Regions from separate parts of the Homo sapiens genome. Here region 2 is linked to region 1. Evidence: fine-mapped expression QTL. Tissue or cell type: whole blood. Region 1 holds a variant in brackets; the other region holds the start of a gene. Each region is shown on its reference strand, or each on the opposite one.

The links.
Region 2: it holds the start of H1-10, and the variant in region 1 is fine-mapped to the expression of H1-10 in whole blood (TOPMed, PIP above 0.99).

The regions. Positions count from the first base shown.
Region 1 is chr16:1,664,509-1,667,403 of GRCh38, reverse strand. CRAMP1 (cramped chromatin regulator 1) reads right to left here. Exons shown (of 21, transcript NM_020825.4): 14 at 2,266-2,347; 15 at 1,227-1,331; 16 at 804-982; 17 at 4-69. Among named protein-coding and RNA genes, the nearest start is that of JPT2, 12 kb to the left of the region's middle. The variant T/G (reference allele first, on the strand shown) is at 1,395.
Region 2 is chr3:129,314,692-129,317,586 of GRCh38, reverse strand. H1-10 (H1.10 linker histone) reads left to right here and starts at 1,301. Exons shown (of 1, transcript NM_006026.4): 1 at 1,301-2,816. The coding sequence starts at 1,685. The coding sequence ends at 2,326. H1-10-AS1 (H1-10 antisense RNA 1) reads right to left here and starts at 1,316. Exons shown (of 5, transcript NR_026991.1): 1 at 242-1,316. RefSeq lists silencers at 823-1,162, 1,963-2,092, 2,473-2,762.

The DNA of each region.
Region 1 (2,895 bases):
TACCTGGAAACTGTCTGCCACTGGCTCCTGCTCAGGCCTCGAAGGGATGCTGACAAATGGGTCGGAGCCCTGCAGGAAGAGCACGCCCATGAGCAGCCGCAGGGTGCACCAGATGCCACCCATACCCTCACCCGCGACAGAGTTCCAGAAAAAGAGGCGTTCCATCCCCCTGGCCTCCTAACAGCAGAGGGACAGTAAATGGACAGGGGTCTAAGGTCGAGAACACTGAAAGGCTACTTTCAGGTGTGGACCGTGTACTTCCAATTTTTTGTTGCTTCCAAGAGTGAAGTAAAGTCCTATCAGGAAGTCAACCTTGTGGCAGGCAGGGCTGGGCTCCCTGGAGTCTTAACAGCATCAGCCCACCCCACCCTCCTTGGGGCAGCTCTGAAGTGGCCGTGGGAGGCCAGAGAAACCAGGTGCTCAGAGCCTTGGAAAGGAGCAATGGCCAAGGCCATACAGGCTGCTCTCTTCCCAGATGAAAGAGATGCTCAGTGGTGTCCGAGCACAGCGCTGTGGGCTGCCACCTTGGTTATGGTCACTCTCAGATGGAGCTATGTTTCCACACCGTCTTAGCTCTGAGTTCTCCAGTGCCACATGGCAAGCCTGTCCCCACCTTTCGTCAGTGGCTCCGGAGGCCTCTCCTGCTCTGTACTACACAGAGTTTGCTTATGCCATGGCACCCCTGGTCCAGAGACTCTCCTCCAAAGGCAGAGCTGGAGTCCAGCGTGATCTCAGCCCCATGGCTTTGGCGTCCACACCAGAAGTTGGTGGTAATGCTGAAAAGCCCTTCTAAACATACTCACCCCCACGGTGGGGAGGGTGTCTCCATCCTGGTGAGTTCCAGTAGAGTCCTGCCCCGAGATGGCACCCGTCACCTCGTCTGAAGACAGTGGAGAGATGCCAGACAAGCCCTCGGTGTCCAAGGCAGGGAGGGGGTTCCCGGAAAGGATGCCGGCACTTGTAGCTGCTAAGTCGATAGCACCTGGCAACAAAAAGGACGCTGCACATCTCTGCTCTACTGACAACCCATAAGATGTCCCAAGAGGGCTCGGGGAACAGCTTCTCCCTCGCACCTCATGTCAATGCAAGAGCCAAGGGCTTAGATGTTCTTGGTGAAGGGTAATGAGACATTATGATTTGGAGAAGAAAACATTCAAAAAACCTGGTCACAAAAACATCCCTCAGAGGCTCACTCAGTGGCTGTGGCCATGCAGGTACAGACTTACTGGCCAGGTGACTCGTGGCCTGGGGTGGAAGGACCTTGGGCACGATCGGCCGAGACAGAGCTGCTTTGGTCAGAGAAGACTGGATGGGCCGGAACGAACCTCTCCCTGCGAGGGCGAGGGCAAAAGCAGACATGTCGAGCCCGCCCGCCATGCCCTCACAGCAGGATG[T/G]GGCCGCAGGGGGCTTCCTTTACAGCCACTGTTGGGAGTGTGGGAGCCGAGCCAAGCTGGAAGCCACTGAACATTCCAAATGCTAACATGAGGAGTCAGAGGTCACACAGGCCCCCAACGTGACACAAGCTCTGGCACCCACCACTGTGCCTCCCAGGAGCTACTGGAAGGCTGCGGTCACCACTGTCATCCTGCGGAAATGGCTCTTGAAGGGTGACAAGCCCCCAAGCTGAGGTACAGGCCCCAGGGCAGTCAGAGCATCAGATTCTGGACTAAGATGCTGCCACTGCAATTTGGTTTTATCTTGCCAGGCTTCCCACAGTTGAAAATTGACAAGTAGGCAAGAGAAAAAGCAATTGACAGCTGTTAAGGGTCTTGCAATAAGTCAGTGAGAGACGTGGAAGTCAACACTGGTAGAAAAGGGAAGTCACAGAGTATGTGTTTCACTAGAGGCTTCTCCCTGTGTAATATCTACCGCAAGGAGCCAAGGCCCCCACTAAATGTACAGACTGATGGAAGCATAATCCATACACCCCAAGAACACATCCATCCCATAAAACGGCTGACAAGACATTACACAGAGAGAGCAGACAAGAGACACAACTCTAACCAAGCCAAGCGCCTCACACAGGGCCATCTGAGGCCACAGACGAAGGGCACCCTTTGGACTAGCTGCCTCGCTGGACTAGCTGCCTCGCCCGCCACCGCAGCCTGCAGCCCAGCACATAGGGCACATTAGGTATTTGTCGGTAGAATGGACAAAGGAATGCCTGAAGATAGGCCATGGAAATAAGCACCCATTGTCTCCAAAGCCAAGGCCCTCCTGTGAGGAGGAGGGACAAGCTACCCCAGAAAAGCTCAGGGTCCTTACCAGTTACGGAAGAGTTAGACAGGATGGAGAAGGAACAAACGTTGTGGGACTGGTTTTCCGATGGTCTAGGGAGCAGTGTTCTCTGTGGGGAAAATGGTCAACAATCAAGGTGATGAAACTCCCATACCAAAAAATCACTCCCAGTTACAAAGGAATGTCCCAAGTAAGAGGGTGCCCAGCATAGCCAGGTGGGGCTTTTTCCAGAGCCGATGACACAGGGTACCTGGGACTGCTCAGACAGTTAGGACCCATGTACCCCAAGCTCCAGTTAGGTCCTCTCTCAAACAAACCCAGGTAATCAAACCCTCCCCAGGGAAACTGGAGGAATGTCAGAGTCATCCACTTTTTTTTTTTTTTTTTGAGACGGTGTCTTGCTCTGTCAGCCAGGCTAGAGTGCAGTGGTGCAATTTCGGCTCACTGAAACCTCTGCCTCCTGGGTTCAAGTGATTCTCCTGCCTCAGCCTCCCGAGTAGCTGGGATTATAGGCACTCGCCATCACGCCCAGCTAGTTTTTGTATTTTTAGTAGAGACGGGGTTTCTCCACGTTGGCCAGGCTGGTCTTGAACTCCTGACCTCAGGTGATCCACCTGCCTCGGCCTCCCAAAGTGCTGGGATTACAGGTGCGAGCCA
Region 2 (2,895 bases), not on the chromosome of region 1:
CCAACCCACCCCCTTTTCAGGGCCTTTTACTCTGTCCACCTGTAAATGTTCCTGTCTCTCACTCTGGGAACCCCAATTCGCCAGCGTCCTGTCCCCCCTCACCCCTCCATCGCTTTTCTATGCTGGGCCTCTGGAGACTGTCTCCTGCCTGCAACCCTGCCACCCCCCAGCCCCAGCCCCACTCCTGTGCCCTACATCACCTACCCCCAAAGGGATCCCCTCTCCTACCCGAGCATCTTACCCTGGCCTCAGCTTCCCCAAGTGGAGGCTGCAACGGCTTCAACAAAAACTGTCCTGTGCCTTCTCTGCACCCCCAATACTGGAATCAGCAGAGATCGGGCCGCCAGCCTTGCACAAGCCCCCCCGGGGAGGGTGGGGCCCGGGACCCTCTCCAGGACATGGTCTCCTTTGCTGTGTTCCCGCCATCATTTCCCTGTGCACGGGAGAGGGGGAGGGGTGCACCCAGGAACTAAGAGCGAATCCCTTCCCCATCCTCTCACAGGAATTCCTCTGGGTGTCACAGCCTCACCCCCGCCCACCCTGTCCCACCCTGGAGCCCCCATTTGGCTTTGGGGGGACCGGCGGCAGCTACTTGTGGATTACAAAATGAGGCCCTGGGAACATCAGCGGCAACAGGGTGGGGGGAGCGGCGAGGCAGTGTCCCTAGAGAGGTCCTGCCGTAGTCCTCCATTCCCCGGGTTGTGCCTAGGCTCCCAGAGGCACAACCAGAACCCGGGGTGCAGCTGGAGAGTGCCTCCCATCCGCCATCCCCTTTGGATGGGGCGGAAAACCCCCGAGGATGTCCTAGCGCAGTTCACGTTGCCCCAGCCGACCACGTGAGGGCGCGCCCTGTGTTAGTTTGGACAAATTAAAGCTCCTCTTGCGGGCAGGCCTGGAGCCCCCCGGGCCGGGACAAGGCTCGGGTGCCCGTGGCGTTCTCTGGGTTGCCGGCCGCCAAGCTCCCGGCCGTGGGGCCTCCTCTGGGGCCCGCGCTATTGGCCTCCAAACGAGGTGCCCCCCTCCTCTCGCGCTCCCGCAGCCTAGGGTGCACCTCTCCGTTCGCCTTTGCTGAGCCCTTCCAGGACGCAAGTCGCCTCTCCACTGCGCCGGGAGCTCAGGCCCTGTCCGGGGCGCCCCGCTGCGGGCGCGGCGGCGCTGGAGAGGCGCGGTCCGAGAAGCCAGCGGCCGGAGAAGGGGCTCCAAGAAGCACAAGTTGGCGCTGGCCCCGGACCAGGCTGTTGTTGTTCTCAACGTGGTCCGCCATGAAGCTATAAAAAGCCGAGAGAAGCGCCCTCCCGCCAGAGCGCAGCGCGCACGCCCAGCGAGTTCCAGAGGCGCCAGTGGAAGCTGCGGCGGCGGTGTCTCGCGTTCGGCGGGATTTCTCTTCGCTCCGGCTCGGCCTAGGTCTACGTCCCCAGCTCCAGCCGCCGGCTCGGACTCGGTCTCTGACCCCCAACTCGGTCCCCTAGTCCGGCCCCGGCTCCGGGCCCCCCAACCCTCGCTCCGGCCCGGCCCGGCCCCCACCCCAGCCCTGCCGCCCGGCCCCAGGCCCGGCCGCGGCCGCTCCCGCCTGGAGCCGCCGCGCGCCCCCAGCCCCCCTGCACCCCCTCGGCCCCTCGCCTTCCTCTTCCCGGCGCGGCCCCCCGGCTTCCGCGCGCCGCCCGCCACCAATCCTCTTGCTACCATGTCCGTGGAGCTCGAGGAGGCCCTGCCAGTGACGACCGCCGAGGGAATGGCCAAGAAGGTGACCAAGGCTGGCGGCTCGGCGGCGTTGTCCCCATCTAAGAAGAGGAAGAATAGCAAGAAGAAGAACCAGCCGGGCAAGTACAGCCAGCTGGTGGTGGAGACCATCCGTAGGCTGGGCGAGCGCAACGGCTCGTCGCTGGCCAAGATCTACACCGAGGCCAAGAAGGTTCCGTGGTTCGACCAGCAGAATGGGCGCACCTACCTCAAGTACTCGATCAAGGCGCTGGTGCAGAACGACACGCTTCTGCAGGTGAAGGGCACCGGCGCCAACGGTTCCTTCAAGCTCAACCGCAAGAAGCTGGAGGGCGGCGGGGAGCGGCGCGGAGCCCCGGCGGCCGCCACCGCCCCGGCCCCCACCGCGCACAAAGCGAAGAAGGCAGCCCCGGGCGCGGCCGGCTCCCGGCGCGCGGACAAGAAGCCCGCCAGGGGCCAGAAGCCGGAGCAGCGCTCGCACAAGAAGGGCGCTGGCGCCAAGAAGGACAAAGGCGGCAAGGCCAAGAAGACGGCGGCCGCCGGGGGCAAGAAGGTGAAGAAGGCGGCCAAGCCCAGCGTCCCCAAAGTGCCCAAGGGCCGCAAGTGAGCGTGTCGGCCGGTCAGAGCGGCCGGCGTGGGCTTTTCGGTGTTTTTGTTTTTCTACCCCAAGTGACGTAGATTTTGTACGGCTCACGCCGGCCGGGGCCGCGAGGCCTGGTCTGAGCCTCAGGGAGGGGCCCCGGGTCCTCTCAGTCTTTCCCCTCCCCCAACGATGTAGCGTTTTTCGTTGTTTGCTTTAGGTTTTTGAAACAGCCCCGGCGACGCCTCTATTGGCTCTCGGCCTTGGCAACGGCCGTCGTCATGGTTACTGGCCCCTAGGCGCCGATGGCCGAGGCCGCGCCTGCCCACCGGGCGGGGTCGCTGGTTGGCCGGGCCCAGGCGCGCGGGGACGCGGAGGCCGCGCATCCTTTCCCAGCTCCCCACCCTCCTTGCCTTTGGGTGCGCGACAAACAATCGCTCCGGGCTCAGGGCTGCGCGGCTCTTCCCTTCATTCCATGGGCCTTTTTTTGGGCACAATAAAGCGTTTAAACCTTTCAGCCTCTCTCGTTTAATCTGAGTGGAATAGGGATGGGCGCCTTCGGCACGCGGGGTTGGATGGCGGGCCCCTCGGGTCCT